Homo sapiens: one gene and its partner. The protein of the gene in region 1 interacts with the protein of each later gene in a pairwise test. Each region holds a gene or a part of one and is shown on either strand. Other genes may lie near its edges.

What was found. The genes of interacting proteins can lie anywhere in the genome.
Region 2: the proteins of KRTAP5-1 (region 1) and SMOC2 interact in binary tests that used the Homo sapiens proteins (3 or more experiments, as listed by UniProt).

The regions. Positions count from the first base shown.
Region 1 is NC_000011.10:1,583,817-1,589,823, reverse strand, and holds KRTAP5-1 (keratin-associated protein 5-1), read left to right. Parts: upstream 1-4,540; 5' UTR 4,541-4,574; coding exon 4,575-5,411; 3' UTR 5,412-5,482; downstream 5,483-6,007. UniProt on the Homo sapiens protein: In the hair cortex, hair keratin intermediate filaments are embedded in an interfilamentous matrix, consisting of hair keratin-associated protein (KRTAP), which are essential for the formation of a rigid and resistant hair shaft through their extensive disulfide bond cross-linking with abundant cysteine residues of hair keratins.
Region 2 is NC_000006.12:168,444,155-168,451,183, reverse strand, and holds part of SMOC2 (SPARC-related modular calcium-binding protein 2 isoform 2 precursor), read right to left. Parts: intron 1-7,029. UniProt on the Homo sapiens protein: Promotes matrix assembly and cell adhesiveness. Can stimulate endothelial cell proliferation, migration, as well as angiogenesis.

The DNA.
Region 1 (6,007 bases):
CTGATGAATGCTCGGGAGGAGCAGGAAACAAGCCACCTCCATGTGAAAATGCAGGCTGTCTACTGATGAATGCTCGGGAGGAGCAGGAAACAAGCCACCTCCATGTGAAAATGCAGGCTGTCTACTGATGAATGCTCGGGAGGAGCAGGAAACAAGCCACCTCCATGTGAAAATGCAGGCTGTCTACTGATGAATGCTCGGGAGGAGCAGGAAACAAGCCACCTCCATGTGAAAATGCAGGCTGTCTACTGATGAATGCTCAGGAGGAGCAGGAAACAAGCCACCTCCATGTAAAAATGCAGACTGTCTACTGATGAATGCTTGTGAGGGAACTTCCGGAGGATGTTTTCAGGAAGAAGGAAGCTGAGCCCGGAAGGAAGAAGTATGGTGTAAGCAAGAACCACGCCTAGAGTTGTTGGTGGATGTGTGGCAAGTTTAAGCAAATACTGACTATAAATAAACAATGATGAGCAATGTGAGAGGAGCTAAGACGCTGGAGAAACTCCCACAGCTGACACCGGAGGGGCTGGGCAGGGGAAGAAGCTGTCCCCAGCTCCCTGCACAACTCTCAGCAGGGGAGGAATAGAGGGCCATCACGTGTAGACAACATTTGTTTAAAAATACACATGAAATGCATAAGGTTGCTGCTAAAAACAGGAATAGTGTATATAACTTCTAAGTCAGTCAAAGCAAAACAAAATAAAAACAAAAACAGAACCTTAAAAACTCCATCTAAAAGAAGAGGGGAAGGAAGCACTACCACAGGATGGTGAAATGCAAAGGGTGGTGGGAAGCAGCCCACGTATGTCAGAAATCACAGCAAACCCCACAGGCTTAGCTCATCGGGTAAAGAACAGAGACCCCAAAATATGGGAGCTTTTAAAGCAGCCCCACAGTAGTTACCTCACCCAGAAGCTTGCAGAAAGGCTGAAAGAAGCTGAATGAAAATGACTGCAGAAAAGGGAGGGAGGGAGGGAGGGAAGGAAGGAGGGACAGATAGAAAGCCCAGATGGCAGTGACTCTCTATCGCACGCCTCCTGGCCTGACAGTCCACGTCCAGCAGACAGTCACGCACCCCAGCACCCGCATGTTTAGAAAGTGCAAAAAGAACAATGGAGAAAATAAAGATATGAGCAGAACTAAATAAAAATGTTTAACACATACAACAAACAGAATCAACAAAATCAAAAGCTGGTCTTTCAAAAGACAAAGAAAATCAACAATATTTAGCAAAACCAATGAGGAAAAAAAGGGTCGGGCAGGAGAAAGAGCATGTATAACCTGAAGCAGGGATGAAAAACGGCAAATAGGCTGGGCACGGTGGCTCACGCCTGTAATCCCAGCACCGTGGGAGGCCAAGGCAGGTGGATCACCTGAAGCCAGGAGTTCGAGACCAGGCTGGCCAACATGGCAAAACCCTATCTCTACTAAAAATACAAAAATTAGCCAGGCATGATAGCAGGTGCCTATAATCCCAGCTACTCGGGAGGCTAAGGCAGGAGAATTACTTGAACCCGGGAGGCAGAGGTTGTGGTGAGCCGAGATCACACCACTGTACTCCAGCCTGGGTGACAGAGTGAGACCCTGCCATAAAAAAAAAAGAAAGAAAAGAAAGCAAATAATGACAAATTTAGCAGCTATTAAAAATAACAGGCTACTAAGCCAGGCGTGGTGGCACACGGTAGGGATTTGTAGTAGTCAAATGTGGTAGTCTGTAGTAGTCCCAGCTACTTCAGAGGCTGAGGACCACTTGAGGCCAGGCGTGAGTTCGAGACTGCAGTGAGCTATGATGGTGCCTGTGAACGGCCACTGCACCCCAGCCTGGACAACATAGCAAGATCCCATCTTCAAAAACAGAGGCAACTATGAAAAGTACATCCCAATAAATTTGAAAAACTTAGAATAAATGACATCTATGTTAAGAAGAAACACAGGAGGATGAGGCAGGAGAATTGCTTGAACTCGGAGGCAGAGGTTGCAGTGAGCCGAGATCACACCACTGCACTCCAGCCTGCGCAACAGAGCGAGACTCTGTCTCAAAAAAAAAAAAAAAAAAAAGAAGAAGAAGAAGAAGAAGAAACAAAAGGCTGGGCGCTGTGGCTCTCGCCTGTAATCCCAGCACTTTGGGAGGCTGAGGCAGGTGGATCATGAGGTCAGGAGACCAGCCTGGCCAACACGGTGAAACCCTGTCTCTACTAAAAATACAAAAATTAGCTGGGTGTGGTGGCACGTGCCTGTAATCCCAGGGGAGACTGAAGCAGGAGAATTGCTCAAACCAGGGAGTCAGAGGCTGCAGTGAGCCGAGACCATGCCACTGCACTCCAGCCTGGCAACAGAGCAAGACTCCATCTCAAAATAAAAGAATCCAGAAAATTCAAAGAACTTCAGACACCAATAAAAATAATAATGATCTTGGCCAGGTGTGGTGGCTCACACCTGTAATCCCAGCACTCTGGGAGGCCGAGGTGGGTGGATCACTTGAGGTCAGGAGTTCAAGACCAGCCTGACCAACATGGTGAAACCTTGACTCTACTAAAAATACAAAAATTAGCCAGGTGTGGTAGCACATGCCCGTAATCCCAGATACTCGGGAGGCTGAGGCAGGAGAATTGCTCGAGCATGGAAAGCGGAGGTTGCAGTGAGCCGAAATCGCACCATTGCGCTACAGCCTGGGAGACAGAGCAAGACTCTCCATCTCAAAAATTAATAATAATAACTATCTCAATTTTGTAAAGTGGGCCAAGGACGTGAAATTAACGAGACTCTAATGACAGGTGACCATATGGAAAGAGGCACAGCATGGCTAGTAACCAGGAAGAGGGAATATTAAACCACAGTGTGTAACACTGTGTTACACACCCACATGAAGGGTGTAAGTTGACAGTTGCAAGTTTTGGTGGGGGTGCCAGGAAACAGGAGCTCTCTGGCAATGCTGGTTGGACAGCAGCTGGCTGGGGGGATCCCTTGGGAAGACAGCTTGGTAACAAGAACCTCCTGACTTTCAGGCACCCACACCTGCAGGAGGGGTTTTGGGCAAGAAAGTTGCAGCTTGCTTGAAATAGCAACAAAAAGGAAACAAAAGGTCCATCAACAAGTAAATGGATAAGTCAATGTATATTTAGAAATCAGAGAAAACAAATAAATTAAAACCATATGTATCCCTAGAGAAAATCTCTTTAGCCTAACACCTATTTTTTTCAAAAGCAATTTACAGAAAGAGAAATACAGTGTAATACCCATTACATAAAGTTTTCAGCATGTAAAATTTTTTTTTCTTTTTTCTTTTCTTTTTTTTTTTTTTTTTTTGAGATAGAGTCTCACTCTGTTGCCCAGGCTGGAGTGCAATGGCGTGATTTCAGCTCACTGCAACCACTGCCTCCCAGGTTCAAGCGATTCTCCTGCCTCAGCCTCCCGAATAGCTGGGATTACAGGCACATGCCACCATACCTGGTTAATTTTTGTATTTTTAGTAAAGACGAGGTTTCACCATGTTAGTGAGGCTGGTCTCAAACTCCTGGACTCAAATGATCCGCCCACCTCAGCCTCCCAAAGTGCTGAAATTACAGGTGTGAGCCACCGCGCCTGGCCACAAAACATTTTTAAAGGAACATACATATTAAGTAGGAGTGTGAGGACCTTCATGAGAGTGGTGAATTCCAAATTCAAGAAATTATTAGGGTGGGACAGAAACAATATGGAGAGATGGAGGAACAGAGACTTCATTTATTTATGCCATTTTTTCCCAAGTTGAGTAGGGTTTTTTTTTACATTTTTTAAATATATTACTCTTTATACCATCGTTCAACTAAAATAGATCACTTTTTTTTTTTTTTTGAGACAGAGTCCCGCTCTGTTGCCCACACTAGAGTGCAGTGGTGTGATCTCTGCTCACTGCAACCTTCACCTCTGGGTTCAAGCCATTCTCCTGCCTCAGCCTCCCAAGTAGCTGGAGTTACAAGCATGCACCACCATGCCTGGCTAATTTTTGTATTTTTAGTAGAGATGGGGTTTTGCCATGTTGGGCAGGCTGGTCTCCAACTCCTGACCTCAAATGATCCACCTGCCTCGGCCTCCCAAAGTGCTGGGATTACAGATGTGAGCCACCACACCCAGTTAATTTTTGTGTTTTTAGTAGACACGAGATTTCACCATTTTGGCCAGGCTGGTCTCCAACCCCTCACCTCAAGTGATCCACCTGCCTAGGCCTCCCAAAGTGCTGAGATTACAGGTGTGAGCCACCATGCCCAGCCTAAAATAGATGCTTTTGTAAATCCAGTGTGACTCTGGAGTCAACAGGGAGAGGCTAGACCCTTGGGGGCCTCCATTAAGTCTGGACACAGATTCAGCAAGAGAGCAGCAGCCCACTGAGCAGCCCATACACCAAGGGGCGGATTTCTAGAGGAAACAAGAAAAAGGGGCCCTAAAAATGGCACAAACAGGAACCAGGAAATGTGTGCCCAGCCTCACACATGACCCTGGGCAGGGATATAAAGGGTCCAGGCTCAGGGAGCTCCACACCTGCACCTCCCTCTCACCTGCTCCTCTACCTGCTCCACCCTCAATCCACCAGAACCATGGGCTGTTGCGGCTGCTCCGGAGGCTGTGGCTCCAGCTGTGGGGGCTGTGGCTCCGGCTGTGGGGGCTGTGGCTCCGGCTGTGGGGGCTGTGGCTCTGGCTGTGGAGGTTCTGGCTCCAGCTGCTGTGTGCCCGTCTGCTGCTGCAAGCCCGTGTGCTGCCGTGTGCCAACCTGTTCCTGCTCCAGCTGTGGCAAAGGGGGCTGTGGCTCTTCTGGGGGCTCCAAGGGGGGCTGTGGCTCCTGTGGAGGCTGCAAGGGGGGCTGTGGCTCTTGTGGGGGATCCAAGGGGGGTTGTGGCTCCTGTGGGGGCTCCAAGGGGGGCTGTGGCTCTTGTGGGGGATCCAAGGGTGGCTGTGGTTCCGGCTGTGGGGGATGTGGCTCCAGCTGCTGTGTGCCTGTCTGCTGCTGCAAGCCCATGTGCTGCTGTGTGCCAGCTTGTTCCTGCTCCAGCTGTGGCAAAGGGGGCTGTGGCTCCTGTGGGTGCTCCAAGGGGGCCTGTGGTTCTTGTGGGGGCTCCAAGGGGGGCTGTGGCTCCTGTGGAGGCTGCAAGGGGGGCTGCGGTTCTTGTGGGGGATCCAAGGGGGGTTGTGGCTCCGGCTGTGGGGGCTGTGGCTCCGGCTGCGGTGTGCCCGTGTGTTGCTGTTCCTGTTCCAGTTGTGGCTCTTGCGCGGGGTCTAAGGGAGGCTGCGGGTCATCCTGCTCCCAGTGCAGTTGCTGTAAGCCCTGCTGCTGTTCCTCAGGCTGTGGGTCATCCTGTTGCCAATCCAGCTGCTGCAAGCCCTGCTGCTCCCAGTCCAGTTGCTGTGTCCCCGTGTGCTGCCAGTGCAAGATCTGATTTCTGGCTTTGCAGGACTCTTACCATGGCCAGGCATTCCTGCCCAGCCTTTACCTCCTTTTCCTGGCACCCAGTGAGCCAGACTCTCCTTCCCCACCCACTACCCTATCTCCCACCCTCCTGCCTTGCCAAGCATGAACACTTCTCTTTGACCTTCTACCAAGAAATGCCATGGGCCCATGCATCCAAGAAGAATGACTTTCAAGGCCTCCCTTCCAGGCATCTGGAGACCAGCCCCCCACCGCCCCAGCCACCTGCAGCAAATGCCTATCCGCAAGCCCTGCCTGCTGGCACCACATCCAGCACGGACAGCCCTGCAGGACAGCCCAGGGTGCTTGCTCACTCTGCAGTCACTAGGAGTTCAGATCTCTGTCCTTTAAACATCCAATAAACCGCTCACCCCAGCACCCCATAGCTGTCTTGGTATATTTATGTTTATTTCCCTCTCGAGGCAGGTGGGGGGCATCTGTGGCTACACTGGGTCCCCTGGGAACCACACACACACACACACACACACACACACACACACACACCGGCCCTGAACCAAACCGGAGCAGGCAGGTGGGCGCCCTGGCCAGCAGGGATCCTGGATACAT
Region 2 (7,029 bases), on another chromosome or scaffold:
GGCGACCCGAGGGAGGGAGGGAAAGCTCAGTATTCAGCTCTCCTGGGCTTTCCCCTGGGGAATAAATCAGTGCAGCAAATGGAAAGGTAGCCTGAGGGAGTGAGCTCTAGCCACACCCATTGCTTGGGAGAATTAAGGCCAACCCATTCACGGGAAGAAACAGGATCCTGTAACACATTTGCATCAACTGGTGGCTGTATTTCCAACCTAGGATAATGGAATCAAGATGAAAATCTAGTTTGAATAAAAATAATACGTAAAGTATCATGTGGGGGTGCCAAAAAATTCAAAAAACAATGAGTGGTGGAAACTGGTTTAGCAGAATCTTAAATTTGGAGACACTTAGGATTATTATCTGATCACCAACTAGTGCCACCTCACAAGGTCACGTTCGGGTTTAAGTGACCAAATGCTTGTGCAAGACCATATCTGGTGTTGGGACCACATTCTTAAAAGGATATCAATGAACCAAAGCTCCAAACAGAACCCGGTGGAGAAAAGGAACTGAAAGTGTCAGGGCCCGAGATCATTCTTTTACATCCTGGGGAAGCAGCATCTACTACATGCATCCAGCACTTCAACATGAATATCTCATTTAGTCTACACAAACACCCCAAATACTGGAAGAGAGAACCCAGGGCCTGAGAAGAAAGGGGTAGAGGAACAGGGAAGAGAAGGACTGGCTGGGAAGGGGACCCATCTGCTGACAACCTAAGCATCTTGTTTAAATACTTAAATAAGGGGCCCTGGAAAATAGATGATGTCCGTTCCTGTTGATTCATTAAGAGATAAATGTTTAAAGATTACACAACTCTCAGCCTTCATTCAAACACAAACCCTTTCAGCATTCCTAGTTGACAACTTCTTATATAGGATCCAAGAGGAATTCTCCTTAGAACAAATTTCGCTCTATGGTGACTGGCATGACAGCAGGCCACCAGAATGCTCACATTATCTTTCTTGCTCAGTGTTCAAAACTTTATGTACATTTGTATTCCAAAGACAGAGGCCTAGACTGTCTTTGAAAGGGCCGTAATGTCATATTATCCAGATTGATTCACCAGTAAAAGCTACCTTCATCTTTTCTCTCTCCTTCCTTTTCTTTTTTCTCTTCTCTCTCTTCTCTTTCTCCTCCTCCTCCTGATAGATAAGCACATCTCAAGGAAGCAGCAATGACAGGATCCTGATTGAAACTCACTGTCCTTGGGAATGTAGGACCACAGGGCACAGTCCTGACCAGGGTCGGAATGGGATTTGATAGGCTGCTAACTGCTTCTTCTTTGATGCGGCCATTTCACAGTGAAGAATATGACTGTCCCTCTAAAGATATGTATGTTACAAAATTTAACTCAATTGTCCTTTGAAATGAAGGGATGACAGAAAAGCACGTGTTTATTTTATGCTTCATTAAAGGTAATGAAACCTTCTAGAGGGTCCAGAAGTGCTTGTCACACACAGGGAGCTGGACAGCCCAGAATCTTAATGCCAAAGAATGGCCATGCACGGTTTATCTGACAGTCCCAAGCTGCCAGCCACCGCAAAATGAAAGGATACTAACTTCTTTTTTCCAAGGTACATTTTAGGTTAGTTTTAATTGTACTTAAAAAAATTCTTGATTACATAGACCCACATCCCATGTGGCATGAATTAATATACAACCAAAACCAAAAATATACCCTAAAGTTGGCCTGATTCTTTTTCATCCAGATCTCTCAAATTATTTTTAAAATTATAAGCACATATGGAATTTCCTTTGTTATTTGAAATTTCTATCTCCTATCTAAAAGTAATTCTCTTATTTAAAAGGTGACTATATTTTATGAAGTCATTTTCCCTCAATTCGATTGCTAATGTCAGGAAGAATATTACAGTGACCGCTATAAATGTGAGGAAAGTTTGTACACATGGTTCTGAGATACGACTTCAGATTTACATTTTTTTCTCAACGTTATAAGAAACGCCATGGCAGAGGAATAAGGGGGCAAGCGTGTGGGTGGATTCATGTGAAGACGGATCAATCTGCACAGACACTGGGAATCAGACAACAGAAGCTGGACACAGGGAGCCACAGGCAGGTCTGCGTTCACTTCTGAAGATGGGCGATGGGCCACAAATGTGGTTCCATGTGAGCGAAGAAAGAAAAAACCAGGTAATTAGGTGTAAAAAAACTGAACATGGGGGTTAGATTTTGAGTGGCACATTAGACCCACAACACCAAATGCAAGCAGGGCATCATAAAATAGTAAAATTGGAAAATATTTGGTGATATGTGTCTGCCCAACACAGGGACCCCATTGAGGTAATATCAACCCTACCATTCTAAAACTGAAAACGTGCCCAAAGACATTAGAATTATTAGTCTACTCACTCCAACAACACGTTTCCATCCTTGCTCAAAGTGCTACGAATATGTTAATTAGTACTTTACTTTAAAACGTAAATATGTATCGCAAGGCTTATGGTAGGAAGAGGGAGTTTAGCAAAAGATGTGCATAAGCCTCATTGCCTCAGTGGAGACAGGGTAGCCAGCACCATCCTCCTCCCCATCACCATCCTCCCCATCACCATCCTCCTCCCCATCATCGTCCTCCCCATCACCATCCTCCTCCCCAGTTCTGTCCTCCTCCCCATCTCCGTCCTCCTCCCCATCCTCATCCTCCTCCCCATCACCATCCTCACCATCCCCGTCCTCCTCCTCATCCCCATCTTCCTTGCCATCTCCGTCCTCCTCCCCATCCTCATCCTTCTCCCCATCATCGTCCTCCCCATTGCCATCCTCCTCCCCATCTCCATTCTCCCCATTGCCATCCTCCTCCCCATCTCCATCCTCCTCCCCAGCGCCATCCTCCTCCCCAGTGCCATCCTCCTCCCCAGCCTCCTGGGAGTGGTTCCACACCTTCTGCTTTGCTCCTGAAAGCCCAGGTCACCACCAGGAGGGCTGCTCAAGTCCAGCACAATGTTGCTTTCATGGCAGAGAATTTGAAAGAGTCTCTTCTGTGGGAGGATTTTGCTCCTTCACAACTCAGCCCTCAATATCATCAACTCACCACTAATCCTAGTCACAAATCGCAGGTCGGTTTGGGCCTGATGTGGGAGAATGCCTACCATCTTCCTGGTCCACTGTGGGCTGATACATGGGACAACCCTGACCTGGGCAGGGAAAGCCTTCAGGAGTCAATGTCCCTAATCCCAAGAAGAAATCAAATGTCCATGGTGACACCCAGCTGGTATGCAGGGTGGATTTATTTGATTCTAGCGCCTTCACTGATCACTGAACAGAGTAAGAGATAAACAAAACACCCTGACGCAGGCAAGGTCAACTTACATACCACAGCATTTTTTTTTTTTTTTTTGCCAACAAACTGGTGAACTTGTCCTTTAAGAAGTGACTAAAATCCAGCAGACTCGGTATCCAAAATGAGATGGGCCTAATGGTGACCTGCACTCAAGGGCTCTGAACCCCTGATCAAACACACCACAGGCCATCGTGTTTACCTACAACTCTTCCACCTTCAGAAACTTTGTTATTATTGGAAGACTCTTTTCTAAGAACCTCAAATGTTAAGAGTTTGCCTACCCCTTTCCCCCCAAAAATGTCTGCCCTCGGCTGGGGGCTAGGGCAGGGATAGGAACAGTGAGAGATGATGCAGCTGGCTCTAGGGCAGGGCCCAGGGCACCCACACTTTAGCAGAAGGAAGGAGTGTGAGGAACAGAAACTAGAAAACCCTTCAGGGAGTCTCAGCTGGTGCTAAAATAGAAATAGCAGCATCCACGGTCAGTATCTTGGTAAAAGGAGAAGCAAAGGAAGTTTCTTCTAATTTGGGCAGAAGCATAAAAGAGAAAGAAAATCGATGACCAGCCACAGTGAGTGGATCACCTGAGCTCAGGAGTTCGAGACCAGCCTGGACAGCATGGCAAAACCTCATTTCTAAAAAAAAAAATACAAAAAATTAGCCAGGCGTTGTAGCGTGTGCCTATAGTCCCAGCTCCTCAGGAGGCTGAGGCAGGGGAATCGCTTGAGCCCAGGAGGCAGAGGTTACAGTGAGCCAAGAGTGCACCACTGCACTCCAGCCTATGGGACAGAGCAAGACCCTGTCTCAAAAAAGAAAACAAATAGATGACCACGGGGAAGAAGACCGTAAAGTGGGCAGAGATATGTGCTGAAGGAGAACGTAGCCTGGACATGCTATATTGACATTTGCCTTCTCTTAAGTGACAGTTTAATTGGTGGATATGCCACATTATGTCATACATAATAAAAATCAAAATAAAATCGTGGTTCATCAAAAAGAAGTCATTCTGAGACTCTCTGTGTTGAAAAATCTAGTTAAATTAAGCCAGATATTATAAAATTTTCATTTGTAATTTTTTAACCCTAAACATATAAATGTGATTTCATATTTTACTTGGTTCTCTTTATTTGTTTTATTACAATCTTTGCTATTTGATGTCTGGCCTGGAACTGCAAAACCACATAAGAATGTCTGTTATTTTCACTTTCAGAGCAATTTCTTTTTAGCCCATAGGAAATTAGGAATCAACAAAAATATTAATTCATATTATAAATCTTCCCTCTTGTGAGCTACAGTTAAATATCCAATATATTAACTGTTGTACATATGTTACAGACACACAATGACTAATGCTGGGATCTTGCTCTATTACTCAATGCCATCAATTGGAGAAACATAAGGGCTGGCAGTTCTAAAGACTATTTCTTTAATTTTCTCCTCTAACTTCAAAATCCTACTGGAAATTCATCATTCTAAGTTTGTGTGTTGTATGTGTAGAACAGTTTATCTTTTGTTTTTGTTTGTTTTTGAGACAGAGTCTCACTCTGTCACCCAGGCTGGAGTACAATGGCAGGATCTCGGCTCACTGCAACCTCTGCCTCCTGGGTTCAATGAATTCCCCTGTCTCAGCCTCCCAAGTAGCTGGGACTACAGGTGCGTGTCACCACACCCAGAGAATTTTTGTATTTTTAGTAAAGATGGGGTTTCACCATGTTGGTCAGGCTGGTCTTGAACTCCTGACCTCAGATGATCCACCCGCCTTGGCTTCCCAAAGTGTTGGGATTACAGGCGTGAGCCACTGCGCCCGGCCCAGTTTATCTTCTAATTCAAAAATATATAAATGTTACCCTTGACCTCCAAACCAATGTTCTGCTGACAATCTTAATAACAATCCCCATTCTAAGATCCTGGATTGGCAAGAAGGCTTATTTTGATATAGAATTACTGAGAAATCTGTTCGGTTCTGAGCCATTGCAACTGACGTTACATCCATGCCCATTGGCTGCATGGTCTTGTTAGGGACTGCAATTGCTTATAGTGTTATTTACGGTCTTGATTTCACAGCAAAATTAAAGTGATTCTTCCAGATGTTTGGGTTTTTAGACGCCATGTAAATGGGCTTCTAAGTTGGAAAATTTTGATTATGTTTAGTTCTCTCCTCCTTAACCACCTTCGTGGTCCGTCTTCTACTGGGGAATGCAGTAGAAGCCCTCCCAGAGCATGAAATGGACTCAAGGCATTTGCAATGGAAGAAGAAAGGAAAAAAAATCACAGTAATTCCCTTGAAGATCCAAGGCTGAGTGAGAACTATATCAAAACAGGATGAGGTACGCATTCCAAACCACAACTGCTCAGAAATGGAATAGCATTTTTATTTTGGCTGTTTCAGCAAAATCAATATTAAATCATCTCATGAACTTGCTAATGAAACTTTAAAAAAATTACACATGGCTAAATATTGTTTTCTTATCACCTTTCTTCTCTTTCAAAGCAAATAAACACAAATAGGAGTGGGAAATAACTGTTTCAGGTCTGTGGTCATGCATTCCACAAGACCAATAAGAGGCATTTACCAGGTGCCAGACCCTCTGTGAGAAGATGAGGATTCAGGATGAAAGTCAACTACAGTCTGAGAGGTGAAACGGCAGTGTGGAATTGTAAAGTTCCTGAAGACAGTGCAAAAAACAGTGCAGGGAACTCCCACGAAGAAAGAAAAATAATGGCAGGATGACTTGAGAAATATTCGGATCTGCTTAGTGACCAGGTGCCCTTCAGAGTCTCTCAAAACTTCAGTTTCCTCATCTCTTGAATGTGGAGACAACGGTACCTTTAACGAAGTCGTGCGTATGACCTTAGGGGAGCGTTAGGTATTGGCAGTAAGAGAAGTCTGAGAAGGATGGTAATGTGACTTCAACATTCTAAGTGTGAGCAAAATATGATTTAGTCAACATGGGAATGAATACTTTGGCTCTAACCAAAAACTTCTGGGAAAGGGGTCCCAGGCAATATTGTTCTTCTCTCTGCCTTTAAAGAAATCACCTAGGTATGGGCTTATGGATCAGTCCATCAAAATTCATATAATGACAACCATGATAAAGTTGAGTAATTGTGATCACGCCTGTTTGCTCTTTGAAAACAGAATTATGTGTAATAAAAACCATTTATACTAGAGATCATTCCCTCATCTCAGTCATTCACAGAAATAAAAAGGAAAATGGGCACGGTGTGGCATTCAATGTACCTCCTTCTTCAAGGAAGAAATTGACCTGCATCCAAATTAAGAGCGCATTGGACACACTTAAGAATGCCATTGTTGACTGGAGGTGAGAGGGTCTGAGCAATAACCAGGAAGTTGTGCAAAGCCATCAGAAAGTCACAATGAGAGACACAGAGGGCCTCATGGTGCCATTTCTAAAGAATGACTTTGGTGGAAAGAAGAGAGATCATTACCAGACAAAGTGGATTCTCTGAATCTTAAACATAAAGTAGCAGAGGTGAGCACACCAGCAATGCTGGACCCACCAAGAAAGCACACTCACCATAGGTGAGTAAGACAAATGCGTGGTCCTGAGAAGCCAGGTATGGCAAACTGAAAGCCCCAGAGAGGCTGACATATTTCCCTGCTTCTAGATGAGAAGAAATGAATGGAGTAGAAGGAGGCAGAGAGGCAAGCTTTCCTCCTTGGTCTATAGAGTCCCACATGGCTACTCCCACAAAGTCCACAGATACACCCAGA